Linked DNA regions of Homo sapiens. The protein of the gene in region 4 purifies or fractionates together with the protein of the main gene of each other region. This does not show direct contact. Each region holds a gene or a part of one and is shown on either strand. Other genes may lie near its edges. The genes, in order: SLC4A1AP, NEMF, BPNT1, MTMR1, NADK and NPEPPS.

Region 1 (4,664 bases), on a different chromosome or scaffold from region 4:
TCCTTCCTTCTTTCCTTCCTCCCTTCCTTCCTTCTCTTTCCTCTATGCTGCCCAGATTGGAGTGCAGTGGTCTGATCACAGCTCACTGCAGCATCAACTTCCGGGGCTCAAGCGATCCTCCCGCCTCAGCCTCCTAAGTAGCTGGGACTACAGGTGCACACCACCATGCCCAGCTACTTTTTTTAGATTTATTTTTAGTAAAGGCAAGGTCTTGCTATGTTGCCCAGGCGTGGGTACATCTCTTTACTATGGTTTATTGGGATTTAGGGAAAGAGGGAAATTAGATATGTGTGTTTAATGTACCATCTTAACCTGCAAATTAGGCTTATATTAATAAGGACTATTTTCCTTGCAAATAATAGAAGTCCAATTCAAACTAGCTTAGGGGAAAGGTCATTGGCTGCAGAAGCTGGGAAGAATAGCTCAGGATGAAGGAACAGGAGTGAAGGAACAACTGCATGAACCAGAACCTCAAGTTCTGAAACCATAACTTAGTACTACCAAAGTAGACTCAGCATCACCAGGACATATACAAGTTGTGTGTGTGTGTGTGTGTGTGTGTGTGTGTGTGTGTGTGTCTGTGAGTGAGTCTGTCTCACGAGTGCATTTTTAAACTTTGCAGACAGATTCTTACCCTGTGCTGAAAAGCTGATTGCTTACAGCCCTGAACTTAACAGTCTCTCACTTTAATAACCTCATTGTAAAGAGAGCCTCTTTGCCCCATCTCTAAATATAAATATGAGGGAAAGAGTCTTACTGATTTGGCTTTGGTCCTATGACTATCCCTAAACCAGATAAAATGGGGGAGGAATTTTCTAGGGGAAAGAGGTACTTTTATCAGAACAAAGGGAGTAGAATGTTGTAGGGTGAACAAAAAAGTAATAGCTGTCATAGTTTCTTATTGATGGACTCTTTACATATTCACTGTTATAAATACTATTGCATTGATATTTATAGAATAAATTCCTAGAAGTGGAATTGCTGGATCAATGCATTTTTAATGGCAGATATTGTAGGCTTGACCATCAAAAAGGTTGTATCAATGTACATTCCCACCAATTATTAATCTTTTTATGTTTTTCTAGTCTAATAGATGAGAAGTATCTAATTTTTAAATTTGTACTTTATTTTTTTTTAAAGTAACATATTTAAAAATATTTATTGTATTTTTCTGTGAACTGCTTTCATTATCCTTTTTCAAATTTTCTTTTGGGTTATTGTCCTTTTTCTCATTTTTCATTTTCCTTTTTTCCTCATTGATTTTTTTTTTTTTTTGAGATAGAGTTTCACTCTTGTCACCCAGGCTGGAGTGCAGTGGCGCTTTCTCGGCTCACTGCAACCTCTATCTCCCAGGTTCAAGCAATTCTCCTGCCTTAGCCTCCTGAGTAGCTGGGATTACAGGCACCCGCCACTATGCCCATCTAATTTTTGTATTTTTAGTAGAGACGGGGTTTCACCATGTTGGTGAGGCTGGTCTTGACCTCAGGCGATCCATCCCCCTTCAGCCTCCCAAAGTGCTGGGATTACCATGCCTGGCCATCCTCATTGATTTTTAAAAGCCGTTTGCTCATTAAATAAATTAACTATTTGCTTTAATGAAAAATTATTTAATAAGAAATTGTGGGAAAATATACATAACAGAAAAGTGTACCATTTTAAGCATTTTAAGAGTATCACTCAGTGGCATTAAGTACATTCACAATATTATGGAACCATCAACACTGTTCATTTTGGAACTTTTTTATCATTCCATACTGAAATTGGTATCTGTTAAACACTAACTTCATTCTCCCTCCTTCCCAGCCTCTGGCAACCACCATTCTACTTTTCTGTCTCTATGAATTTGACTACTTTAGGTATCTCACATGATGCAGTAAGTGTCCTTTTATATATGGCTTATTTCACTTAGTATAATGTCTTCAAGGTTTAGCCCTTTGTTTTTATACGTAGTTTGGCAGCTTGTAGAACCTCTCTTTCAGTAGTTGATGGTGACATTTTAAGCTCCTTGCCTACTTGCCTTCTTTCTTTTTCTTTTCTTTTTTAAAAACTTATTTATTCATCATTTTATCTACCTCTAGTATCTCGGAAAAGGAAAGCCAAGAACTGGGAAGATGAAGACTTTTATGATAGTGATGATGACACATTTCTTGATAGGACTGGCCTGATTGAGAAGAAGCGTCTGAACAGAATGAAGAAGGCTGGCAAGATTGATGAGAAGCCAGAGACCTTTGAATCATTGGCAAGTTTTATTTATGGAAGTAGCTGTGGTATTTAATAGTTTAATTTTTAATAACATAATGTATTATTTAAATATGTTTTATGATAATTTTTAAAGTAGTAGCATTGAAATCTGATACTGAAGTATAACTTTTGTGGTCTGTTAATTTAATGGTAACAGACAACTAGTCTTATCCAAGTTGTTTGAAAAAAATATGGCTTGCTGCTAGATCCTTTCCTTCAGGATATTGATCCATTAATTAACATTCTTTGGATATGATATTACCTCTCTCAAAAGGAAAGGAAAAAGTTCCAAGTTAGGGCGTTCTGAGGTGAAATTGACTTTAGCCTTCTGGCAGTCAAGAGAAGTCAAAGGAATTTTGAAGAATGTAGTATGGTAATATGTAGTCTGAAACAGTATGTTCTTCAGGAAATTATCACAAGGTGACGTGTTAATGGGTAGGTAACAGACAATAATAGGCAGGTAATAGGCTACCTATTAGACTAGAAAAAAACATAAGATTAATAATGCAGAGCTTGACCAGAATATGGAGAAGTAGACTCTCAATTGGTGGGAATGTACAATACAACCTTTTAAGTGATCAATCCTACGACATCTGTCAGTATTAAAAATGCATTGATTCAGCAATTGCACTTCAAGGAATTTGTTACAGGTATTAATTTATAGTAGGATTCAGAGCTTAAAACATTACCCAACATCTATCCTTTTGATTTATGTGAAAACAAATGCCTTGAGCTCTTTCTTCTGAGTAAAATGAAGTCCGAGTTATTCATTCTGTTTAATTCTGTGTTTTTTAATTCAGAAATAAATTAAATTTGGATTTAACACATAAAAAGTGTTAACTCCTGGCTGGGCATGGTGGCTCATGCCTGTAATCCCAGCACATTGGGAGGCTGAGGCCGGTGGATCACCTGAGGTCAGGAGTTCGAGACCCACCTGACCAATGTGGTGAAACCCCACCTCTACTAAAAAAAAAAAAATACAAAAATTAGACAGGCGTGGTGGTGTGTGCCTGTAGTCCTAGCTACTCTGGAGGCTGAGACAGGAGAATTGCTTGAATGCAGGAAGCAGAGGTTGCAGTGAGTCGAGATCACGCCATTGCACTGCAGCCTGGGTGACAGTGCGAGACTCCATCTCAAAAAAAAAAAAAAAAAACTATTAACTCTGGCCAGGTGTGGTGGCTCACACCTGTAATCCTAGCACTTTGAGAGGCTGAGGCAGGCTGATCATGAGGTCAGGAGATTGAGACCATCCTGGCCAACATGGTGAAACCCTGTCTCTACTAAAAATACAAAAAGTAGCTGGGTGTGGTGGTGCACACCTGTAGTCCCAGCTACTTGGGAGGCTGAGGCAGGAGAATCGCTTGAACCCGGGAGTCGGAGGTGGCAGAGAGCCGAGATTGCACCACTGCACTCTACCCTGGCAACAGAATGAGGCTCTATCTCAAAACAAAAAAAAAAGTGTTAACTCCATAAGTAGCAGTTTAACTGGACTTTTGAATTAATCTTCTTAAAACTTCTAGTAAGAATAATTAAAACAGGAGGATGAAAAACAGTTTGAAAGAAGAAAAACTTTGTAACCCTGTTGATTTGGGTGTTACAGGTTGCAAAATTAAATGATGCTGAAAGGGAACTTTCTGAAATTTCTGAGAGATTGAAAGCCTCAAGCCAAGGTAAGTTTTTCATCAAATATTTATTAATATACCACATATAGTGCTCTATGCTAGGCACTGGGGCTACATTAGTTAATAAGAAATACCATACAGAATATGGAGCCTTTTAAAGGAGCAACATACCGTTTTAGAACTAGAAAGAACATTATAAATCATTTGGTTTAACCTCTTTATTTAATTGTTGAGGGGAATGAAGCACATTGAGACAAAATGACTTCCCAAGGTCTCATGGCTATAACCTGTTCCTTATTCCTATTACTAGTGATGTCCTCTGTCCGGTTTTATGTTAGTGACTTTTATATGGAAACTTTGGCTGAATTTTAAAATATTCAGGATCATCTTTCTAAACATGTGTTATTCTTTTCTTGGACAGTTCTATCAGAGTCTCCATCTCAGGATTCTTTAGATGCGTTCATGTCAGAAATGAAATCAGGCAGTACATTAGATGGTGTGTCCCGGAAGAAACTTCACCTGAGAACTTTTGAACTGAGGAAAGAACAACAGAGACTTAAAGGGTTAATAAAAATTGTAAAGCCAGCAGAGATTCCAGAACTAAAAAAGTAAGTCTTAGTTATATTTGGAATTCTAAATAAGTATGGTAGCATAGATAACATTTTCAATTATCGCTTTATCTTCTTAAATAATCATTATATAATACAAATGTAATGCAAGGAACCCTTTAAAGCACAGAAAGCAGTGGTTTCATAGAGTAACTAAAAACCTGTTTCATATTTGTGAAATATAGACTGATAG
Region 2 (4,664 bases), on a different chromosome or scaffold from region 4:
GCGGATCACGAGGTCAGAACTTCGAGACCAGCCTGACCAACATGGTGAAACCCCGTCTCTACTAAAAATAGAAAAATTAGCCGGGTGTGGTGGCACACGCCTGTAATTTCAGCTACTCAGGAGGCTGAGGCAGGAGAATCACTTGAACCTGGGAGGCGGAGGTTGCAGTGAGCTGAGACTGTGCCACTGCATTCCAGTCTGGGCGACAGAGCGAGACTCTCTCTCAAAATAAAGTAAATAAATAAAGGTTGTGGCTTATGAGTGAGGTCATTAGGACCACAACAAGGAATTTAGCAGTGGTATAAAGCAACAAAGCAAATTTTGCTATAGGTCCATCATTCTCTACTTAAAAATTGAAAATAAAAGCCTGGCTCAGTAGCTTACGCTTGTAATCCCAGCACTTTGGGAGGCCAAGGCAGGAGGATTGCTTGTGCCCAGGAGTTTGAGATTAGCCTGGGCAACATAGTGAGACCCTGTCTCTACAAATAATGAAAAAATTAGCTGGGGATAGTGGCATGTGCCTGTGGTCCCAATCCTCAGGAGGCTGATGCAGGAGGATCACCTGAGCCAGGGAAGTCGAGGCTGCAGCGAGCCATGATCACACCACTGGGCTCCAGTTTGGGTGACAGAGTGAGACCCTGTCTTAAAAAAATGCAAATAAAACACTGTTTCAGAGTTAGTGTTTATAATAAAATGTTTTCCCTCTGATTATCATCTGCAATCTATTACTTTATGACTATACTGTTATTCACAACGTTTTAAATATTCCTGATGATAATGAAAAGAAGCTTATTTATAAACCAATACCAAATGGTTAGGAATTCACTTTTACTAAATGAATGCCTTTTTCTTTCTCTTGCTAGTGCCGAAAACATTTGAAGAGTCGGAGATTAGTCAGTGCAAAACAGCTTGGTGTGGATAGAATTGTAGATTTTCAATTTGGAAGTGATGAAGCTGCTTACCATTTAATCATTGAGCTCTATGATAGGGTAAGTTAAATTTGTGGGATATGGTGAAGGAAAATTTCTTATTAATCATTTTGTAATAGTGCTATATAACATGAGTGGGGGAACATTTTTTTTCTGTGTCAAAGGTTGTTACTACCCTAGGAAATGGGTGCCACACAAATAAAATAAAATTTTCCAGTAATAACCTTCATTTTATCTGTAGGTCTGAGTTTAGGCAGACTTTAGCCATTTAGAATAGCCTTATGAATGTAGGAGATGAAGATCTGAGAAGTAAATTATTTGGTACTTGACATTTCAGGACTAATATGCAACCAGAAAATAGTCAAATACGGTCATGCACTGATGCGCTGTATGTATAGTGATGTTTCAGTCAACAACAGACTGCATATAAACGTTGGTCCTGTAACATTGTAATGGATCTAATAAATTCTTACTGCTTAGTGACATCTTGATCCTGACTCTGTGTAGGCCTAGGCTGGTGTGTGAGTTTGTGTGTTAGTTTTTAACAAAAACATTAAAAGTAAAAACAAAACAATTTAAAATGGAAAAAAAGCTTAGAGAATATGGATCTAAAGAAAGAAAGTATTGTACAGCTGTACGATATGTGTTTTAAGCTAAGTGTTATTACAAGAGTCAAAAAGCTAAAAAGTTTAAAGTTTATAAAGTAAAAAAGTTCCAGGAAGCAAAGGTTAATTTATTATTGAAGAAAGAAAAACATCTTAAAAATAAATTTGGCTGAGCGCAATGACTCAGGCCGGGCACAGTGGCTCACACCTGTAATCCTAGCATTTTGGGAGGCCGAGGAGGGCGGATCACCTGGGGTCAGATCACCTGGGGTCAGGAGTTCAAGACCAGCCTGGCCAACATGGCAAAACCCCGTCTCTATTAAAAAATACAAAAATTAGCTGGGCGTGGTGGCGGGCACCTATAATCCCAGCTACTCGGGAGGCTGAGGCAGGAGAATCACTTGAACCTGGGAGGCAGAGGTTCCAGTGAGCTCAGATTGTGTCACTGTGCTCCAGCCTGGGCAACGGAGCAAGACTTTGTCTCAAAAATAAACTAACTAACTAACTAACTAACTAACTTAATCTGGGCCAGGTGTGGTGGCTCACACCTGTAATCCCAGCACTTTGGGAGGCCAAGGCGAGTGGATCACCTGAGGTCAGGAGTTTGAGACCAGCCTGCCCAATGTGGCAAAACTGCATCTCTACTAAAAATACAAAAATTAGCCTGGTGTGGTGGTGCGTGCCTGTAGTCCCAGCTACTCGGGAGGCTGAGGCAGGAGAATCACTTGAACCTGGGAGGCAGTGGTTGCAGTGAGCTGAGATCATGCCATTGTACTCCAGCTCAGGTGACAGAGTGAGATTCAGTCTCAAAAAGGAAAAAAAAAATATATGTGTGTGTGTGTGTGTGTGTGTGTGTGCGCGCGCGTGCGCGTGCGTGTGTATGTATATAAATAAATAAATACATAAATTTAATCTGGTCTGAGGTAAGCATAATTTTTTTAAAAATTAAAAAATAAAAAACAAATTTAGTGTAGCCCAAGTGTGCAGTATTTATCAAGTCTACAGTAGTATGCAGTAATGTCCCAGGCCTTCACATTTACTCACTGTCACTCACCCAGAGCAGTTTTCAGTCCTGCATGCTCCATTCATGGTAAGTGCCCTATACAGGTGTTCCATTTTTAATCTTTTATACCAGGGATCTTCAACCCCTGTGCCGCAGACTGGAACTGGTCTGTGGAACCAGGCCACACGGCAGGAGGTGAGCAGTATGCGAGTGAGCATTACTCACCTGAGCTCTGCCTCCTGTCAGATCAGTGGTGGCATTAGATTCTTATAGGAGCGTGAACCCTATTGTGAACTGTGCATGCAAGGGATCTAGGTTGCATGCTTCTTGCGAGAATCTAATGCCTGATGATCTGAGGTGGAACAGTTTCATCCGGAAACCATACCCCTGCACCCCCCATCCATGGAAAAATTGTCTTCCATGAAACTGGTCCCTGGTGCCAAAGGCTGGGGACTGCGGTTTTTTTTTTGTTTTGTTTTGGTTTTTTTTTTTTGATACAGAGTCTCACTTTGTTGCCCAGGCTGCAGTGCAAGGGTGTGATCTCAGCTCACTGCAACCTCTGCCTCCCGGGTTCAAGCAATCCTAGTGCCTCAGCCTCCTGAGTAGCTGGTATTACTGGCATGTACTACCATGCCCAGCTAATTTTTGTATTTTTAGTAGAGATGGGGTTTCACCATATTGGCCAGACTGTTCTCAAACTCCTGACCTCAGGTGATCTGCTCGCCTTGGCCTCCCAAAATGCTGGGATCACAGGCATGAGCCACTGCGCCCGGCCTGGAACTGTTGTTGTAATACCATATTTTTACTGTACTTTTTCTATATTTAGATGTACTTAGATACACAAATACTTGCTATTGTATTACAGTTGACTACAGTATTCAGTAACATGCTATACAGATTCCTAGCCTAGGAGCAATAGGTTATATCATATCTTTGGTGGATGTATTAGGCTACACCGTCTAGGTTTGTGTAAGTATACTCTATTACGTTCACACGACATCGAAGTTGCCTAAATGCATTTCTTAGAATGTATCCCCATTGTTAAGCAATGCATGACATTGGGTCTGCCTTCTTTTATGCAATATTTTTTATTTTTTTGAGATAGAGTCTTGCTCTGTTGGCCAGGCTGGAATTCAGTGGCATGATCAGGGCTTACTGCAAACTCGGCCTCCTGGGCTCAAGTGACCCTCTTGCCTTAGCCTTTCATGTAGCTGGTACCACAGATGTGCACCACCATGCCTGGCCAATTTTTTTATTTTTTGTAGAGACAGACTCTCACTTCGTTGCCCAGGCTGACCTTGGACCCCTGGCTCAAGCAATCTTCCCATCTCAACCTCCTAAGGTGTTGGGATTACGGGGGTGAGCCACCACGCCTGGCTCTTTTATTCAATATATAATGTCTGTGAGATTCATTGATGTTGAAAATTCCCTTAGCTCCACATCCTTAGCAACATTTGATATGATCTCTTAGAGCTCTTTATCTAATCTGATTATGAGCCCTTTGCTGATTATTTGTGTAGTAAATGTCCTTTTCTACTCTAACCTGAGTTTTTACTCTTTCTTTTTTTTTATTTTTTAATTTTTTTTGAGAATAAGTCTCACCCTGTCGCCAGGCTGGAGTGCAGTGGTGTGATCTTGGCTCACTGCAACCTCCGCCTCCCGGGTTCAAGCGATTCTCCTGCCTTAGCCTCCCGAGTAGCTGGGATTACAGGCACCTGCCACCACGCCCAGCTAGTTTTTGTACTCTTAGTAAAACAGGGATTCACCATGTTGGCCAGTCTGGTCTTGAACTCCTGACCTCAGATAATCTGCCCACCTTGGCCTCCCAAAGTGCTGGGATTACAGGCGTGAGCCACTGCGCCTGGCCTGCTACTAGTTTTTCAGCACTTAGTAATTTCTGGTTATCTATCTCTCTAACCAACGTAAATGGTGGCTACATTTACTGAAGCCACTTACATTGCAACCTGTCATTTCAGATGAATTTGGGATTACTCCCACCGTATTCTGTGACTATCTTGTAAACAGTTGTAAGGCATTTTTGACTGTTTTCATGGATGCTTCTTTGTATTTTAATTATACCTGTAGAGTAACTCTGATCTTCACTGTCAGTAATAAATTTGGAAGGTG
Region 3 (5,211 bases), on a different chromosome or scaffold from region 4:
CTGGCCAACATGGTGAAATCCCGTCTCTACTAAAAATACAAAAAATTAGCCGGGAGTGGTGGCAGGCGCCTGTAATCCCAGCTACTCTGGAGGCTGAGGCAGAAGAATCGCTTGAACTCAGGAGGCACAGGTTGCAGTGAGAAATCAGGCCACTGCACACCAGCCTGGGCGACAGAGCGAGACTCCATCTCCAAAAAATAAAATAAAATGCACTTCATCTTTGACCCACGGTTTCACATCTGGGATCTATCACAGCTATAGTCTTCCAGGAGCACAAAGATATATTTACATAGAAACTCTCCTAACCAACCTCTACATAACTTGCTGAATTCAACTATGCCGTTTTCTCGTAAAACCTATGAGAGGATACAATGAACACTTGGGAGATGGCTACTCTTTAGGATGACTGCAGATTTCTATTCTCACTTGTTGAGCTTACCTTGCATTATGTTTGTCTTTATTTAAGCCATTTGTACTTGTCATGTAATTATACAATTTAATTATAAAAACCAAAGTATGGCCAGGTGCAGTGGCTCATGCCTGTAATCTCAGCACTTTGGGAGGCCGAGGCGGGCGGATCATGAGGTCAGGAGTTCGAGACCAGCCTGGCCAACATGGTGAAACCCCGTCTTTACTAAAAAAAAAAAAAATGCAAAAACTAGCTGGGCTGGGTGGTGTGCGCCTGTAGTCCCAGTTACTCAGGAGGCTGAAGCAGGAGAATAGCTTGAACCCTGGGAGGCAGAGGTTGCAGTGAGCCGAGATCAAGCCATTGCACTCCAGCCTGGGCGACAGAGTAAGACGCCGTCTCAAAAAATATATATATGTATATATGTGTGTGTGTGTGTGTGTGTATATATATATATATATATATATATATATATATATATATGGTTAAAGTAATATAATTTAAGTTATGTATATTTTTCCACTTCCCAAAAAGGGTCTACTTAACTCACAGAGTTATTGTGAAAATCAAATGAAGACGTAAAAGCCTTTTTAAGCTGGGCGCAGTGGCTCACACCTGTAATCCCAGCACTTTGGGAGGCCGAGGTGAGCAGATCACCTGGGGTCAGGAGTTCAAGACCAGCCTGGCCAATATGATGAAACCCCGTCTCTACTTAAAAAACAAACAAAATTAGCCCGGCGTGGTGGCGCGCCTGTAGTCCTAGCTACTTGGGAGGCTAAGGAGGAAGGATCGCTTGAACCCAGGAGGAGGAGGTTGTAGTGAACCTAGACTGCGCCACTGCACTCCAGCCTGGGCGACAGGATGAGACACTGCCCCCTTCCCCAACCACGCCCCCCAGTAAAAGATCCCATCTGTACACAAAAAATATTTTAATTAGCTGGGTGTGGTGGCGCGCACCTCCACCAGTAGTCCCAGCTACACGGAAGGCTGAGGCGGGAGGATGGCTTGAGCCTAGAAGTGGGAAGGCAGCAGTGAGCCGTAATCGACTCTGGGCGACAGAGCAAGCTATCTATCGCTTAAAAAAAAAAAAAAAAAAAAAAAAAAAAAGGTAAGCAAGCATCTTTGACACAATTCTGCATAAAGTTGCTGTGTTATTGCGTGGGGAGTGGGAGGTGGAGGTGTGTGTGGTGGACCTGCTGAAGCCTGTCCACGGACCGCTAGGGGTTCGAAGTTAAATAGCCGCAGAGTGGTATCACTAATACAAAGAACATTTTAAAACAGTGAACTCTACGAAGTGGGCTGGAAGACAGCTGAAACCAAAACCAATCTTTTTTTTGTTTCAACACACTGTTGCTGGCTTAATGTGTTCTTTCCTTCTTCTTTTTCTTTTTTTAGCCAATCTTTGAAAGTTGACACATCTTTCGCTTTTATTTAATGCAACAGGTGACTTGCACCTACGGAGAGCTTGGAGAAAACACGGACAAGTGGAATTTTCCCGCGGATCAGGAGTCTAAAGAGGCAGTGTGAAATCGCTGTTGTGCGCTTGCGCGCAGTTTCCCGCATGCTCAGTAGCTGAGGTAGGGATGCCATCCTTCTCAAAAGACTTATTGACAGTGCCAAAGCTCGGTACTGGACACAACGAGGGACCTGGGTCTACGATAACGCGCTTTTGCTCCTCCTGAAGTGTCTTTGGTCCAACGTTGTTCCAGGTTTGTCACCGTTTCTCTCCGGCCGGTCAGGGCAAGAGCCAGGTAGATAGGATTTATGTTAAAAAAATAAAACGAAAAAGGTTTATGTGAATCAGATTGCTTCTCCAGATATTCTAACTTCCGACTTGGACTCTTGAGTGTCGATATTTTAATTGTTTATCTGTGCTTTTATTTTCGTGATCCGGAAGGTTTTTATAGCCATATACTGTAGAAACAAGACAAACCTAGACATTGAGTTTGTTGATGCACCCAAATTTAGAAACTGCTTGGTACCTAAAATTAAATTTCTTTAAACAGCAAATATTCTTCCAACTGCCATTTCTACATATTTATAGGTTTGCGTGATTTATTTGGATTTCTCTGTAAATATAATTGTTGGTTCAAAAGATACGTACTTTATACTTTTATTAAGGTTCTCAAAACTCTCCTAAGAGGGTTCACCGCTTTGCCAACAATGCTCAGGAACATGTTCCCTCACACCCTTGCAAACTGGACAAAGGACAAACTCTTCTTCTTTCTTCTTTTTTCTTCTTCTTCTTCCTCCTCCTTCCTCCTCCTTCTTTTTTTTTTTTTTTTTTTTTTTTCGAGACGGAGTCTCGCTCTGTCGCCCAGGCTTGAGTGCAGTGGTGCAATCTCGGCTCACTGCAAGCTCCACCTCCCAGGTTCACGCCATTCTCCTGCCTCAGCCTCCCGAGTAGCTGGGACTACAGGCGCCCACCACCAAGCCTGGCTAATTTTTTTTGTATTTTTAGTAGAGACGGGGTTTCACCGTGTTAGTCAGGATGGTTTCGATCTCCTGACCTCGTGATCTGCCCGTCTCGGCCTCCCAAAGTGCTGGGATTACAGGCGTGAGCCACCGCGCCCAGCCTTTCTTTCTTTCTTTTTTTTTTTTTTTTAAGACAGGTTCTAGCTCTGTCCCCCAGGCTGGAGTACAGTGGTGCCATTATGTCTCACTGCAACCTTGACCTCCCAGGGTCTGGTGATTCTCCCACCTCAGCCTCCCGAGCAGCTGGGACTACAGGCATGTGCCACCACACCATCTAATTTTTGCATTTTTTTGTAGAGACGAGGTTTTGCCATGTTGCCCAGGCTGGTCTCGAACTCCTGAGCTCAAGCAATACACCAGCCTTGGCCTCCCAAAAAGTTCTAGGATTACGGGTGTGAGCCACTGCATTCAGCGACAATTTTTTTTTTTTTTTTTTTTTTTGAGTCGGAGTCTCTGTCGCCCAGGCTGGACTGCAGTGGCGCGATCTCGGCTCACCACAACCTCTGCCTCCTATGTTCAAGCAATTTTCCTGCCTCAGCCTCCTGAGTAATTTTTGTATTACTATGCCTGGTTAATTTTTGTATTTTTAGTAGAGATGGGGTTTCACCATGTTGGCCAGGCTAGTCTTGAACTCCTAACTTCAGGTGATTCACCTGCCTTGGCCTCCCAAAGTGCTGGGATTACAGGTGTGAGCCACCGTGCCCTGCCAAATTTTCTTTTCTATGCCAATCTTAAAAATAAACAATCATGGCCCGGCGCGGTGGCTCACGCCTGTAATCCTAGCACTTTGGGAGGCTTAGGCAGGCCATGAGGTCGGAAGTTCGAGACCAGCCTGACCAACATGGAGAAACCCTGTCTCTACTAAAAATACAAAATTAGCCAGGTGTGGAGATGCTTGCCTGTAATCCCAGCTACTCGGGAGGCTGAGGCAGGAGAATCGCTTAAACCCGGGAGGCAGAGGTTGCGGTGAGCCAAGATCTCGCCATTGCACTCCAGCCTGGGCAACAAGAGCAAAAACTCTGTCTCAAAAAATAAATAAATTAATTAATTAATTAAAAATAAAATAATCATTTCTCATTGTTTTAGTTTGCATTTCTTTCATAATTAGTGAAGCTGAGTATTTATGTATTTAATGGCCAGTGCTTTTCTCTTTGTAGGTGTTGCCCGTTCTTGTTTATTTGCTCATTTTTCTATTGGATTATTCAGCTTTTATATACTGATCTTTTACAAATTAAGTCATTTGTCTGGTATGTGATACAATATTTTTTTCTCATTTTGTCAAGTACCTGTTTATTTAGTTTATGGTATTTTGGCCATGTAGAAGTTTTAATTTTATTTTTATTTATTGATTGATTGATTTTGAGACGGAATCTCGCTCTGTCACCCAGGCTGGAGTGCAATGGTGCAAATGATCTCAGCTCACTGCAACTTCTACCTCCCAGGTTCAAGCAATTCTCCTGCCTCAGCCTCCTGAGTAGCTGGGATTACAGGCGCGTGCCACCAAGCCCGGCTAATTTTTGTATTTTTAGTAGAGACAGGGTTTCACCAAGTTGGTCAGGCTGGTCTTGAACTCCTGACCTCGTCATCCGCCCGACTTGGCCTCCCGAAGTGCTGGGATTACAGGCCACCGCGCCCAGCAACTCTTAGTTTTATAGAGTCAAATTTATCAATAGAATATTTTATGGATTCTTGGTTTTATGCTTAAAGGGCATTTACCAAGCTTATGAAGTTTATAATTTTTATTTCCATGCTTTTATGGTTTCTTTTTTTACTTTTATAAACCATGCATTGAAATGTATTTATATCAAAATGTATTTATATCAAAATATCAAAAGAATGCAAAAAGGACTCAACTTTTTTTTTTTTTTTTTTTGAGACGGAGTCTTGCTCTGTCGCCCAGGCTGGAGTGCAGTGGCACCATCTCGGCTCACTGCAACCTCCGCCTCCCAAGTTCGAGCAATTCTCCTGCCTCAGCCTCCCAAGAAGTTGGGGTTACAGGCGCCCGCCAATATGCCCGGCTCATTTTTTTTTTTTTTTAAGTTTAGCAACTCAGGCCGGGCGGAGTGGCTCACACCTGTAATCTCAGCACTTTGGGAGGCAGGCGGATCACAAGGTCAGGAGTTCAAGACTAGCCTGGCCAACATGGTGAAACCCCATCTCTATTAACAGTACAAAAATTAGCCTGGCATGGTGGCTTGTGCCTGTAGTCCCAGCTACTCAAGAGGCTGAGGCAGGAGAATCGGCTGAACCCGGGAGGCGGAGGTTGCAGTGAGCCGTGATCTCGCCACTGCACTCCAGCCTGGACAACAGAGTGAGACTCTGTCTCAGAA
Region 4 (4,664 bases):
AGGTTGAGCATCTTTTTCTCTTCTAAAAGGTTAGAAATGATGTGGTGGAGAAGAAACTTTTTCGAACAAGTTATGCACAGGTTTAACTGCTAGCTTATAGGTTCTCCATCTTTCCTTGATTCTCTCTTCTCCCTGTGCCAAACCTTAGACTTTGTCATGTTTGTTCATCCTGTTTCCAGAGGGTGAGTGGGACTCAAGGACAAGGACGGGTTTAAAAACCAAATTTGCCAGATGGTTTTTATTAGATGTTCTGGTAAAGAATTGATGAGTAAGGATCCAAACCACTGACTACAGTTAGATTCGAAGCATGTGGTGTGACTACATCTGTCTGATCCAGTGTTCCCGGGTCTGGGAACTCTTCAGTGCATTGTCAGCTTCAAATTATTCCACTAAGATCTTATTTTCATGACGTTTGTTTCATGACGTTGTCTCTACCTTATATTTGGTATAATGTTTTACGTTACTTATTTTAGACATTCGTAAGAGGTATCTGTGTTTCTAAAGGACTTTTGAGTATATTCTCAAAAATAACAGAGCTCATTATTTATAGAAAATAGGACAAGAAATATATAGAAATGTGATTCTAGCGTATAATTTTCATGTTTTAGTATGGTTTGGATATTCTTATGCTTCTTTAGATTTTTAGAAATGTCTAGGAAATGGGTTTTACCGAATAAATATATATATTGACTTTTAAGTTACAATAAACAATAAATTATAAACGGATTTTAGTTGCAAATAAGAAATGGATGTACTTCATGCTTAGTACTTTTTCAAAGTGTAAAGTCATGCATTTCACCCTCTTCTTCTTTCTCCAACACCTTACAGGGCTTGCCAAATGAGAGTTGGAAAATATCCAAAATAAACAGTAATTATGAGTTCTGTGACACCTACCCTGCCATCATTGTTGTGCCAACTAGTGTAAAAGATGATGACCTTTCAAAAGTGGCAGCTTTTCGAGCAAAAGGCAGAGTCCCTGTAAGTAATAAACATTGTCATTTATATAGGAATATATATTGCGTTAGATCTAATATGGAGAGATTTAAGACAAAAAAGAAACTAGTGAACAAAAATGGAAAGCAGAAAAATAAGCTTATAAACCTGAACATACCTTTGATTCTCAACAAATACCTAATTATATAAACAATCTGTTTGCTATGACTCCCTCTTTTACGATTTCCTATAACTAAGTATAAGGGGAACTTCAGTCATACCCTCAAAAAGTAGTAGAGAATGACAAAGGAGTAGCAACAACAAGTTATCATGCTATTGTATTACCAGTTGGCATTGCTGGTTTCACTGAATCATCCTAGAGAAAATGCTTCTTTCTTAGATACTGAGCATGATGCCATAGCTGCGTGGGAGGGACATCATTACAGAAGTAGTAGCAGACAGCTGGGAGTAATGGTTTGAGCCCAGAGTTTGCATCTGTTGTAATCCTGAGTCACTTGGCCACTGGAGGAAAATGAGAGGTGGGGTGGCAGAGTGTCAGATTTTATAAGAGACTGTATATTCACTTTGTCCTTACCCTGCCACGTATATTATTGTTGAGATACAAAGATGTTTTTAAAATTAGGAGACAAGGTAAAATTAGTCAATCAAATTGGAATGGGGCTAGATTTTAGTAATAGTTTGATTTAGGATTTGTTTTTCTTAGAATCATAGAATATTGGGGATGGAAGGGGATTTTTAGAGCTCATGTAGTCAGAATTGTTTCATCCTGACCAAAACATTGAGTCTGATGGCCACTACAATGCTGTGATTGGCCTGCCCACTCTCACTTTTGAAGAAAATATGTATAAGAGACCGTGCTTGAGAAGGGAACTTGTTTTTCCTACCAGGTAATTAGAGCATACATTCTTTAGGAACTGTACTAATATTTATTGCTTAAAAACACTAGGTGTTGTCATGGATTCATCCGGAAAGTCAAGCAACGATTACCCGTTGCAGCCAGCCACTTGTGGGTCCCAATGATAAGCGCTGCAAAGAGGATGAAAAATACTTGCAAACAATAATGGATGCTAACGCACAGTCACACAAGCTTATCATCTTTGATGCTCGACAAAACAGTGTCGCTGATACCAACAAGGTATATTCTTAATAGCACTGCAGAAACACTGGATATTTTCATGTCCTGTCTGTAAATCATTATGCAGTTGGAATAACTCATTGATTTCCTCACCACCTGAAGTTAGAATCATTTGGAGTCCCATAGCTATTCCTCCCTGGTGTATGCTCCTTGGGCTGTGTTTGGTGTCTCACATGGGTTGGGATCTTGTCTGTTTCATTGCTTCTCTACAATATCCTGTCTGCTAAATCAATTAAGTAAAGACCTAGAAAGACAATTATCATCTAAAGGATTTAGCATTTTAATGAAATGATCGTGAGGTCCTTGGAAGTCCGTTTAAGGAATATAGTGGTTAGTTGATTAATTCATGTCTGGTCTGAATTTCTTTTAGAATGGAATCAGCCATGTGAAATGTGTAAATGTACAAAGTTTCCATAAATCTCATGGAGCACCTGTGTAGTGTACCTCGGGTGGCAGTGAGACATGGTTAAAAACACCTCCGTTCCCATGACTTTCATGATATCACACCCTGAGTTTCTCTCGCTCTTCAGCCTGGCCTTCTCCATCTCCTTCACTGATTTCTCTTCCCAGTCTTCAAATGGCATTGCTCCTCGAACTTGGTCTGGGGTCCTCTTTGCTCTACACAGACTCCTGGGGCCATCTCTGATGACACGGCTTTAAACACTGTCTGTATGCTGAGTTCAACTTGAGCTTGACACTGCAGTTTCTCTCCTGTCCTGATCCCTCCTAAGGTTGAGACTGGATTTCTATCCCATTGTATGGTTGACATCTCTGCTTGGCTGTTTCCCAGACCACAAACCCTCCGTATATTCCAACTGGCCTGAGAGGCACGATGGCAAGTTGGTGAGACCCCTTGGCTTTGGAATCAGTTACACCTGGGTTTTCCTCCAGGTTCTGCCACTTGGTGCTCTAGAATCCTGAGCCGGTTACTTAACCTCTCTCTGTGCCTCAGGTTCCTCTTCTGTAAAACAGGAGATAATATCAGTGTCTCATGTCATGGGTTGTGTGAGGATTAAAATTCAGTGAGAAGAATGCATGTAAATGACTTAGCACAGTGGTGAGTGCATCCTCAGGGCACAGTACATGATGCTGATAAGCTCGCCACCCCTGTGGTCAAGGGTGTTGCCCAGGTGTCTGACTTGAGGGTGAATAGTGGTGTCTGTTACTGAGATGGGGAAGACTGGGAGAGGAACAGGGCAGGGAGGAAGATGGGGAAGTATTAGTTTTCTGAGGCTGTCATACAAATTACTACCAATTTGTTGGCTTACAGCACCAGAAATGTATTGATCACAATTCTGGAGGCCAATTCTGCTCCCTCTAAAGGTTCAAGGGGAGAATCTGTTCCTTGCCTCTTCCAGCATGGGGTGGCTGCCCCAGCCTTCCTGGGCTTGCAGCCACATCACTCCAATCTCTTCTTCCGTCATCACATGACCCTCTCTTGCTCTGGGTTTCTGCGTCTCCTCCTTTCTCTTCTAATGACACTTGTGATGACATTTAGGTTCCACCTGAAATAATCCTGGATCCTTAAACACATCTGCAAAGACCCTCTTTTCAATTAATCTTGGAATCCTTAAACACATCTGCAAATCTCAGGATCCTTAAACATCTGCAAAGACCTTCTCTTCAAATAAGGTCACATTCACCATTGCCAGGGATTCGATGTGGATGTCTTTGGCGGGGCCACTTTTCAGCCTACCATAGGGAGGCATCCCTCAGTGAGGCCCCCTTGCTCCCCACATCTGGATCATTAGCTGTGTCAGTCTTTCTACATCTCTGCCTCCCACCTGTCACCACCATATCCCAAGGAATTACAAAATGTGAGAAAAGCCATATTGGTGGAGGCCATCTTCAGACTAGCCAACAGGGTGAGGGCAGTTCATTGTGTTTTATCCCATGCAGGAGAGATAGAGACAGGACACTAAATTGTATATCTAGAATAATTTTAACTATGGCAGTATATGTGTCTAGGAAACAGTATTTTCTAGGTCTCCACTGGTTCTTTATATATAAGATTATGTCATATGCAAGTCGAGATAATGTGACTTCTTCCTTTACAATCTGGCTGCCTTTCATATCTTCTTCTTGCATTGGTATTGCATTGGTTGATTTTTATATGTTGAACCACTGTCGTGGATTGAAAAATGTCTCCCAAAAGTTTGTCCAACTGGAACCTCAGAATGTGACCTTATTTAGAAATAGGATCTTTGCAGATGTATTAATTATGATGAAGCCATCTTGGAGTAGGGTTGGCCCTAAATCCAGTGCCTAGTGTCCGTATAAGAAAGCCATGTAGAGACACAGGCACACACAGAAGGAAGATGGCGATGTGGCAATAGAGGCAGAGATTTAAATGATGCAGCTAGAAGCTGAGGAGTGCCAAGGACTTCCAGCAACCACCAGAAGCTAAGAGAGAGACATGGAACAGATTCTTCCCTATACCCTCCTAAAGGAACCAACTCTGCCAGCACCCTGATCTCGGACTTTCAGCCTCCAGAACTGTGAGAGAATAAATTTTATGTTGTTTTAAGTCCCCCAGTTTGTGATAGCACCCTTAGGAAGCTAATAAAACCTCCTT
Region 5 (4,664 bases), on a different chromosome or scaffold from region 4:
TCAGGGCTGGAATGGGTGTAGGCCAGGCCACTGGGTCAGTGGTGACTGTTGGCGGGGAGAGCAGGGGGAGCCGTGTGCAGGGCGGGGGCTTTGCTGGCTGACCAGGCCGGAGGACCGTGAGCCACCTGCACGCCCTTGGGCCGGAGCCAAGCAGAGTGACGCAGCGGGCTAGGAGGCAGGGAACGCCCTTCCACCTGACTGTGGCCTGAGGGTGCCTTCCCTGGGGCCCAGCCGGTTCCGCGGGCCAGAGCGGTGGCTGGCGCAGTGCTGGGGCGAGGCTGGAGGCTGGGTACTTGGCCAGGTCTGAGGCCACGGGAACAGAGGGCTTGGTCCCACCCGGCTCAGTTAGGAGCAGGGAGCTGAAGTGTGGCCTCTTTGCTGCTGAACTGAGGACTTTTTTTCAGAAGGGATTAGGCAGGAGGACCATGTGACCAATGAGGAAACTGTTTTGTTTTGTTTGATTTTTATAAGTGTAGGAAGCTCTTTTGACTTAGTTGCTTTTACAACAACTTTACCAAGTCTCATCACAATTGTGTTTTGCTTTGAGTTTTGAGTATGAAGAGCTTAGGCTTCTAGTGTGGGCGCACAGTCAGGACCATACCGATGGGGCGGCCGCGTGTTCGCCAAGCGTGGCCTGGATGCTGTGGACACACTGGCCGGCTCCCAGCAGGCAGGGGCTACCTCGCGAGCCACATGTGTGACCCGGCAGGTGCTGAGCTCATAGGGGATGGCATGAGTGACCCCACGCCTCCCAGTAATGCCTGCACAGGGTGAGTGCTGACCAGCTTCCGAAGGTCACAAGCGATGGGCTAAGGTCTGTGGCCCTGTGGCTGCCATCGGCGTCTGTGTTGTGGTTCTGGGGGTGTTAGTGGGACGGTCACACTCCTGGGGAAGTCACTGCTGGGAAGAGGCATGGCAGGCAGCAGCTTTCTCGATTGGGCAACTTGGAACTAGCTGGCTGGCGCGGTGGTATAAGAACTTGTCCTTTGGGGCTGAGGATAGGCGGTGAGCGCTGACGACGGTGGCCAGCCCCGCTGCGCCCTCCCTTGGCTTCTGGGAACAGGAGCAGGCTCCGTGGTGTGTGTTCCCGGTTCTGGGCTGGGATGTTTTCTGTGACTAACGTGGTAATGGGAATCCCACCGGGGTGGGCCCTGCCTGTGGAGAAACACCGGGCACAGTGGTCGGGGTCAGAGCCAGCAAAGCGCGGGTGGCTGTGTCAGGGCTGCCACGGACTTTTAAACCTGTGATTTTTACTGTGAGAGTGAGTGAGGTTAAAGTCCGTTCATGCAGGGAGGTAGTGAGCTGTGTGCAGGGGGGGAAGCGGGTCCTTGAGGGGTCCTGGGCTCCCGTGGGGCCAGAAACTGTGTGCAGAGGATCCTAGGGACAGAGTCACCATGTCAACTGGTTTGGGTTTTCGTGGGGGCCTGAGGAGGGCATCAAGCAAAGAGTGGCCCAGCCATGGGCTTTCGTGGTCATTTCTGCCCCACCAGCGTCACTGAGGAGCCAGGCAGGCAAGTGGCCGGGGGCTGGGAAGGGCTGTGGTGCGTGCACTTGGGTCAGCGTGGTGCCCGGGTGGGGGTTGTGGGCCTGAGCCTGCGTGTGATGGGCCAAGCAGGTGAGAGGTGGTCACTCCGGACCCTACTGACCCCTGACCCTGTCTCTGTGGCGCGACCCTAGGCCCTGTGAGCCCGTGGCCACCGAGCACGTTTCCCTGGGAGGTGAAAACACCTTTTTAAAGATTTTTTTTTTTATTTTCTAAGTCATACACCTTTTCCGCAAGAGGGAGATCGCAGCTGGTGTGAACTCTTTTCTCCTCCCCTAAAGGCACATTCAGGACCCCGCGAGCCAGCGGCTGACGTGGAACAAGTCCCCAAAGAGCGTCCTTGTCATCAAGAAGATGAGAGATGCCAGCCTACTGCAGCCGTTCAAGGAGCTCTGCACGCACCTCATGGAGGCACGCGGGGCAGGGGGGAAGGGGGCCTGGGGTGCACATGGAGTTGGGGGGGCCTCCATCCACATCACCGCCCCGTGAGACCATGGGAACCACCTCAAGTGCTGGGCAACGGCTGCTTGTCTGGAACTGGGGACTGAGTGGGGATCTGCCGGGTGTCTGGGTTTGTGTGTGCCGCCATGGCAAGCACCAGACTGGGTGACCAACAATGAGCTGGTGGGCTCGTGGCCCTGGAGGCCGGGAAGTCCGAGATCAAGGGGCCACATCTGACGTGGGCCTTCCTGCTGTGTCTTCTCTTCAGAAGAGCAGGCGTGGGGGTTGCGGCGCCCAGGAAAGCCACTCCTGAAATAACAGCCTTAGTCAATTCCTGAGAGGGAGCCCCCTCCGCCCAGTCATCTCTTAAAGGTCCTGCTTCCTCCTGGCGCGTTGGTGATGAAGTTTCAGCGTGAGCGTGGGGGGGCGGGCATGCAGGCCACGATGCCAGGTCTCTGACCACAGCGCCCGTGAGTCGGGAACCTCCCTGCAGGAGGGTGGGGTCTGCAGGTGGAATGAGCAGGTTGGCACTTTGCTTCCAGGAGAACATGATCGTGTATGTGGAAAAGAAAGTGCTAGAAGACCCTGCCATCGCCAGCGATGAAAGCTTTGGGGCAGTGAAGAAGAAATTCTGTACCTTTCGAGAAGGTGGGCTGTCAGCAGCTCTGTCCTTGGTTTCTCCAGCACAGTTCCCCGCCCCATTGGAAGCTTCTGGCACTGTTGCCCTTGTCATTGGTGTCTGCGCACTGCGCCACAGAGGGGCCACTGTGTGACAGCCTCTTCTTGGTTTTGCTTTGTGTTTCCTAGATTATGATGACATTTCCAATCAGATAGACTTCATCATCTGCCTGGGGGGAGACGGGACGCTGCTGTACGCTTCCTCGCTTTTCCAGGTGAAGCGCTGACATTTCCAGACCCACACCAGGTTCTAGTCTAGGTGCTGCGTAACGAGGGGCTCACAAGCATGGCTTCCATTGCTTTTCACCCCTTTATACGAGAGCAGTCACCTAGAGCGGCCAGCACTGAGGCCCATGGTGGCAGCCCGGTGGGGTGCGACGGTGGGGCCAGGGGCAGTGTGGACACAGTGCTACGGCTGGGGGTGGCCAGCGCCCGCCTGGGACAGCAGGGAGTGGCGCAGGGTGGTGGGTCCTGGGAAACGACCTCGCCTACTGGCCCATCCCCTCTGGGCCTCCCTTGAGCTCCTCTTCCTGGTTTCTCAGCAGCACAGCTCTCCCCTGGGGCTGTAGGGCCACGCTGTGTGGGGGACCCTGGCTCTGCCCTTGGCCCACTGCATGTTGGTGACACCGGAAATGCCCGCAGCCCGCCCTGCTTTTCTCCCCATCTCCCCATTAGCACCTGTGGGGCGCGAGGCTCCGACCCCAAGGCTGCCTCCCACCCGCCCTCGCCAGCTCCCCCAGCCCTCCGTGCCCAGGGGGCCGCTCAGCCCTGCCACCTTTGTTCCTCACCAGCTCCCCACACCAACCTTGGCCCTGGTGGCCCGGCCCACCCTGGCCTGCGACGTCCCCCTCCGCTTGTCCACATGGCCAGTCCCTCCTGCAGAGGGTCGGGGTGCTGTCCCCACAGAGCTGGGTCCCTCCTGAGGTGCTGCTGGAAAGCTGGGTGGTGCGGGGGTGCACGGCGTGGGCACTGAGTGACCTCTCCGTCGGCTCACAGGGCAGCGTCCCTCCGGTCATGGCCTTCCACCTGGGCTCCCTGGGCTTCCTGACCCCATTCAGCTTTGAGAACTTTCAGTCCCAAGTTACTCAGGTGATAGAGGGTGAGTTGGAATGTTCTGGAGCCCACAGGAGCTCTGATCATGGCGCTGCTGTCTCGCTTGCTTGCGGGGGGTTTATTTTCATTTAATGATGCATGGAGCAACATTTAAAGGTTTCAAGATTCAGGGATTTCTAAATCTTGAGTGGTTCAAACCTTTTACTGACACTGAGAAGTTTCAGCAGATCACAGGTTGAAGCTGCCATGTGTGTTGGGCAGAAGTGAGCTGATTCTCACTCTCAGAAGGCACAGAAGTGTCGGCCGGGCGCGGTGGCTCACGCCTGTCATCCCAGCACTGTGGGAGGTCGAGGCGGGCGGATCACGAGGTCAAGAGATGAGACCATCCTGGCCAACACGGTGAAACCCCGTCTCTACTAAAAATACAAAAATTAGCTGGGCGTGGTGGTGCGCACCCGTAGTTCCAGCTACTTGGGAGGCTGAGGCAGGAGAATCACTTGAACCTGGGAGGCAGAGGTTGCAGTGAGCCAAGATCACACCACTGCATTCCAGCCTGGGTGACAGAGTGAGACTCCATCTCAAAATAAAAAGAAAAAGGCACAGAAGTGTGTCAACTTGGGAGAAGAAAGAGCCCTCTGACTCCCACTGGCCTCCCTGGGGTGGGGCCCCTGACCCCACTGACTTCCCTGATGCATGCCCTCTGACTCCTGCTGGACCTCAGGGAACGCAGCTGTTGTTCTCCGGAGTCGGCTGAAGGTCAGGGTGGTGAAGGAGCTCCGGGGGAAGAAGACGGCCGTGCACAATGGGCTGGGTGAGAACGGCTCGCAGGCTGCAGGCCTGGACATGGATGTCGGGAAGCAGGCCATGCAGTACCAGGTGAGTGGAGGCGCCTCGGCCTCGGTGAGGGGCCCAGGGTGGGGCGACTTCGGTCCCAGGGATGAGGACCTTC
Region 6 (4,664 bases), on a different chromosome or scaffold from region 4:
GCATGAACTTTTCAAAACACTTTTTTTCCAGAAATTCTTTTCAGGCTAGATGGCAACACAAAGATGACACAATAGTGAATTCCAACAGGTTTTATTAAAGGATGATTGGACTTTTAAATTGTACTAATTGACATGTTTGGAAGGGTAAAAGAGGAATTAACATTGGTAAGAAGTAAAAAGCATATATTAATGTTTTTGAAATCCATGAATTAGAGCAATACGTTTAAATTGTGGCATTAGGTGGTATCTTGTGGGCATTTTAAAATATTGACAAAATTCTTTTTTTTTTTTGAGATGGAGTCTCGCTCTGTCGCCCAGGCTGGAGTGCAGTGGCACGATCTCGCCTCACTGCAAGCTCTGCCTTCCGGGTTCACGCCATTCTCCTGCTTCAGCCTCCCAAGTAGCTGGGACTACAGGTGCCCGCCACTGCACCCAGCTAATTTTTTGTATTTTTAGTAGAGACAGGGTTTTACTGTGGTCTCGACCTCCTGACCTCGTGATCTGCCCGCCTTGGCCTCCTAAAGAGCTGGGATTACAGGCGTGAGCCACTGTGCCCGGCGACAAAATTCTTATCTGTAGAAACCTATATTTATGACTGATATTGGATCAGTTTCCTAACAGTTGGAATCACATAACACAAAACATGCAAGTTGCTTAGTTGCTTTAGTTACAAAATTTTACGATAAGCCCAGAGTATTTGTGTAGGTTACATATTAGAAACTTAGTGGATTTATTTTATTTTTTATTTTTATTTTTTTGAGATGGAGTTTCGCTCTTTCTCCCAGGCTGGAGTGAAGTGGTGTGATCTCGACTCACTGCAGCCTCCACCCTGTGCCCCTGCCGGGTTCAAGCGAGTCTCCTTGCCTCAGCCTCCTGGGTAGCTGGGACTACAGGTGTGTGCCATCACGCCCAACTAATTTTTGTATTTTTAGTAGAGATGGGGTTTTGCCATGTTGGCCAGGCTGGTCTCGAACTCCTGACCTCAGGTGATCCCCTTCCCTTGGCCTCCCAAAGGGCTGGGATTATAGGCATGAGCCACCATGCCCGGCCAACTTAGTGGATTTTTAACCTGGCCTGGGGTGTGGACTGCTGCAGAAGGTGAAGAAATTAGTCCATGTTCAGTGATTTAAAAATCAATTGTCTTGGCCGGGCACGGTGGCTCACACCTGTAATCCCAGCACTCTGGGAGGCCGAGGCGGGCGGATCACGAGGTCAGGAGATCGAGACCATCCTGGCTAACACGGTGAAACCCCATCTCTACTAAAATACAAAAAATTAGCTGGGCGTGGTGGCGGGAGCCTGTAGTCCCAGCTGCTCAGGAGCCTGAGGCAGGAGAATGGCGTGAATCTGGGAGGCGGAGCTTGCAGTGAGCTGAGATTGCGCCACTGCACTCCAGCCTGGGCAACAGAGCAAGACTCTGTCTCAAAAAAAAAAAAAAAAAAAAAAAAAAAGGCTGGGCGCGGTGGCTCACGCCTGTAATCCCAGCACTTTGGGAGGCAGAGGCGGGCAGATCATGAGGTCAGGAGATCGAGACCATCCTGGCTAACCCAGTGAAACCCCGCCTCTACTAAAAATACAAAAAATTAGCCGGGCGTGGTGGCGGGTGCCTGTAGTCCCAGCTACTCGGGAGGCTGAGGCAGGAGAATGGTGTGAACCCGGGAGGCGGAGCTTGCAGTGAGCCGAGATCGCGCCACGCACTCCAGCCTGGGTGACAGAGCGAGGCTCCGTCTCAAAAAAAAAAAAAAAAAAAAATTAGTTGTCTTTCACATTAGTGTGGTCTAGCTGGTTTTGAAAATTTGTTATTATACAGAAGTTTCTCTAGGCCCAAAATTTATTTCATTCCCTGTCCCCTCCCTTTACACTGGATACTTGAGAGCAGTGGACTTTTGTAGATATTTCATATTTTGATCCTCTCCGTTTGTGGATAATTAATTAAAATGAATTATAAGTTTATGTGTGTGACTACTATTTATGATTATGAGTGTGTAGTGGTTGGTACAATAATTGGGTATTCTTTTTTTTTTTTTTTTTTTTTTGAGATGGAGTCTTGCTCTGCCACCCAGGCTGGAGTGCAGTGGCGGGATCTTGGCTCACTGCAGCCTCTGCCTCCCGGGTTCAAGCAATTCTCCTGCCTCAGCCTCCTGAGTAGCTGGGACTACAGGCACGCGCCGCCATGCCTGGCTGATTTTTTTGTATTTTTAGTGGAGATGGGGTTTCACCATATTGGCCAGGATGGTCTTGATCTCCTGACCTCATTCCATCTTCCTCGGCCTCCCAAAGTGTTGGGATTACAGGCGTGAGCCACCGTGCCCAGCTGGGCTTTCTCTTATGGAAATATTTTACCTGTGCCAGAGAAACTAAGTTTATCATTCAAGGCCAGAAATCAGGATATCCTAGCCAACCCCTGGCCTCTACTAACAAAATATACATGTTGGAGATAACTAAATTGGCACTAAGTGAATAGTTGCCAATATAGTAGTTTGTTTGGCAGATTAAAAATTTGGCACCTGAATGGTTATTGTCAATTCTGTGTTACAAATTTTTTGCCCAAATTCTGCATATTTTCTCTCTTTTTTTTTTTTTTTTTTTTTGAGATGGAGTTTCGCTCTTGTTGCACAGGCTGAAGTGCAGTGGCATGATCTCGGCTCACCGCAGCCTCTGCCCCCCCAGGTTCAAGCAATTCTCCTGCCTTAGCCTCCCAAATAGCTGGGATTACAGGCATGCGTCACCACGCCCAGCTAATTTTTTCTGTTTTTAGTAGAGACGGGGTTTCTCCATGTTGGTCAGGCTGGTCTCGAACTCCCGACCTCTGGTGATCCACCCACCTCAGCCTCCCAAAGTGCTGGGATTATGGGCGTGAGCCACCGAGCCACCGTGCCTGGCTTCTTTTTTTTTTTTTTTTTTTTTTTTGAGACGGAGTTTTGCTCTTGTTGCCCAGGCTGGAGTGCAATGGCGCGATCTCGGCTCACCGCAACCTCTGCCTCCCAGGCTCAAGTGTTTCTCTTGCCCCAGCCTCCAGAGTAGCTGGGATTACAGGCGCGCACCACCAAGCCCAGCTAATTTTTTGTATTTTTAGTAGAGAGATGGTTTCATCATGTTGGCTAGGCTGGTCTCAAACTCCTGACCTCAGGTGATCCACCCGCCTTGGCCTCTCAAAATGCTGGGATCACAGGCATGAGCCACCGTGCCTGGCCATTTTCTGCATATTTTCTATGTAATCATTTTGGCCAACACTGTGGCTCACTCCTGTAATCTTAGCACTTTGGGAGGTGGAGGTGGGAGAATTGCTTGAGCACAGGAGTTTGATACCAGTGTGGGCAACATAGCAAGACCCTGTCTCCAGGAAAAAAAAAAGGAAGAAATTTTCTTAAAAAAAATTCATATATATAAAATTAAATTCAAAATATTGGTGATAAGGAATTGAATTTGTTCAGATTTTCTGTTTTTTGAAATGTATCTGTGAGGAAAGAAGTATAACAGTTTTGTATGCTAAGCTTTGTCTAATTCATCTGGCAATGAATTCTGCAGTGAATTTTCCAGATAACTGAAGTTTACCCTTTGAGGCCCTTAGACATTTTTAAAAAAGTTTACTAGGCTGGGTGTGGTGGCTCACGCCTGTAATCCCAGCACTTTGGGAGGCTGAGGTGGGTGGATCATGAGGTCAGAAGTTTGAGACCAGCCTGGACAACATGGTGAAACCCCGTCTCTACAAAAAAATACAAAAATTAGCCGGGCGTGGTGGCACATGCCTGTAATCCCAGCTACTCGGGAAGCTGAGACAGGAGAATTGCTTGAACTCGGGAAGCGGAGGAGCGGAGGTTGCGGTGAGCTGAGATCACGCCATTGCACTCCAGCCGGGGTGACACAGCGAGACCCTGTCTTTAAAAAAAAAAAAAAAGTTGACTAATCTGAATGGAAATATTTCTAAAATACATTATCTTTTTATGCTTTGCAATTCCTCATAGTGTAGGTTTGTTTCATTGTTTTTTTTAAATACTGAACTTTATTTTGAACATCTCTCATTGACCCCAAACTATGTACTATAATTTATCAGTTTCATATCTGTTTTTTTTTTTCTTTTTTTTTTCTTTTTGAGACGGAGTTTCGCTCTGTTGCCCAGGCTGGAGTGCAGTGGCACAATCTCGGCTCACTGCAACCTCCGCCTCCCAGGTTCAGGCAGTTCTCCTGCTTCAGCCTCCCTAGTAGCTGGGATTACAGGCATGCACCACCACGCCTGGCTAATTTTGTATTTTTAGTAGAGACAGGGTTTCACCATGTTGGCCAGGCTGGTCTTGAACTCCTGACCTCAGGTGATCTGCCTGCCTCCGCCTGCCAAAGTGCTGGGATTACAAGTGTGAGCCACCGCGCCTAGCCATATCTGTTCTTTTTTTTTTTTTTTTTTTTTTTGAGACAGAGTCTCACTCTGTTGCCTAGGCCAGGCTGGAGTGTGCAGTGGTGCGATCTCGGCTCACTGCAACCTCCACTTCCCTAGTTCAAGGGATTCTTCTGCCTCAGCCTCCCTAGTAGCTAGGATTACAGGTGCATGCCACCACACCTGGCTAATTTTTGTATTTTTCTAGAGACCAGGTTTCGCCATGTTAGCTAGGCTGGTCTCAAACACCCGACCTCAGGTGATCCGCCTGCCTCTGCCTCCTAAAGTGCTG

The links.
Region 1: the proteins of MTMR1 (region 4) and SLC4A1AP purify together in Homo sapiens (affinity purification with mass spectrometry, with the first as the bait; 2 studies listed by BioGRID). This does not show direct contact.
Region 2: the proteins of MTMR1 (region 4) and NEMF purify together in Homo sapiens (affinity purification with mass spectrometry, with the first as the bait; one large-scale study listed by BioGRID). This does not show direct contact.
Region 3: the proteins of MTMR1 (region 4) and BPNT1 purify together in Homo sapiens (affinity purification with mass spectrometry; one large-scale study listed by BioGRID and IntAct). This does not show direct contact.
Region 5: the proteins of MTMR1 (region 4) and NADK purify together in Homo sapiens (affinity purification with mass spectrometry; one large-scale study listed by BioGRID and IntAct). This does not show direct contact.
Region 6: the proteins of MTMR1 (region 4) and NPEPPS purify together in Homo sapiens (affinity purification with mass spectrometry, with the first as the bait; one large-scale study listed by BioGRID). This does not show direct contact.

Annotation. Positions count from the first base shown.
Region 1 is NC_000002.12:27,673,454-27,678,117, forward strand, and holds part of SLC4A1AP (kanadaptin), read left to right. Parts: intron 1-2,078; coding exon 2,079-2,239; intron 2,240-3,841; coding exon 3,842-3,911; intron 3,912-4,284; coding exon 4,285-4,471; intron 4,472-4,664.
Region 2 is NC_000014.9:49,842,465-49,847,128, reverse strand, and holds part of NEMF (ribosome quality control complex subunit NEMF), read left to right. Parts: intron 1-863; coding exon 864-989; intron 990-4,664. UniProt on the Homo sapiens protein: Key component of the ribosome quality control complex (RQC), a ribosome-associated complex that mediates the extraction of incompletely synthesized nascent chains from stalled ribosomes as well as their ubiquitin-mediated proteasomal degradation.
Region 3 is NC_000001.11:220,086,590-220,091,800, reverse strand, and holds the start of BPNT1 (3'(2'),5'-bisphosphate nucleotidase 1), read left to right. Parts: upstream 1-2,012; 5' UTR 2,013-2,115; exon of another isoform or gene 2,116-2,157; intron 2,158-5,211. UniProt on the Homo sapiens protein: Phosphatase that converts 3'(2')-phosphoadenosine 5'-phosphate (PAP) to AMP and inositol 1,4-bisphosphate (Ins(1,4)P2) to inositol 4-phosphate. Is also able to hydrolyze adenosine 3'-phosphate 5'-phosphosulfate (PAPS) to adenosine 5'-phosphosulfate (APS).
Region 4 is NC_000023.11:150,730,642-150,735,305, forward strand, and holds part of MTMR1 (phosphatidylinositol-3-phosphate phosphatase MTMR1), read left to right. Parts: intron 1-828; coding exon 829-978; intron 979-1,900; coding exon 1,901-2,089; intron 2,090-4,664. UniProt on the Homo sapiens protein: Lipid phosphatase that specifically dephosphorylates the D-3 position of phosphatidylinositol 3-phosphate, generating phosphatidylinositol. Could also dephosphorylate phosphatidylinositol 3,5-bisphosphate to produce phosphatidylinositol 5-phosphate.
Region 5 is NC_000001.11:1,754,471-1,759,134, reverse strand, and holds part of NADK (NAD kinase), read left to right. Parts: coding exon of another isoform or gene 1-34; intron 35-492; exon of another isoform or gene 493-603; coding exon of another isoform or gene 604-770; intron 771-1,000; exon of another isoform or gene 1,001-1,077; intron 1,078-1,824; coding exon 1,825-1,954; coding exon of another isoform or gene 1,955-2,028; intron 2,029-2,252; exon of another isoform or gene 2,253-2,356; intron 2,357-2,477; coding exon of another isoform or gene 2,478-2,526; coding exon 2,527-2,632; intron 2,633-2,791; coding exon 2,792-2,877; intron 2,878-3,658; coding exon 3,659-3,761; intron 3,762-4,436; coding exon 4,437-4,591; intron 4,592-4,664.
Region 6 is NC_000017.11:47,533,819-47,538,482, forward strand, and holds part of NPEPPS (puromycin-sensitive aminopeptidase), read left to right. Parts: intron 1-4,664. UniProt on the Homo sapiens protein: Aminopeptidase with broad substrate specificity for several peptides. Involved in proteolytic events essential for cell growth and viability. May act as regulator of neuropeptide activity.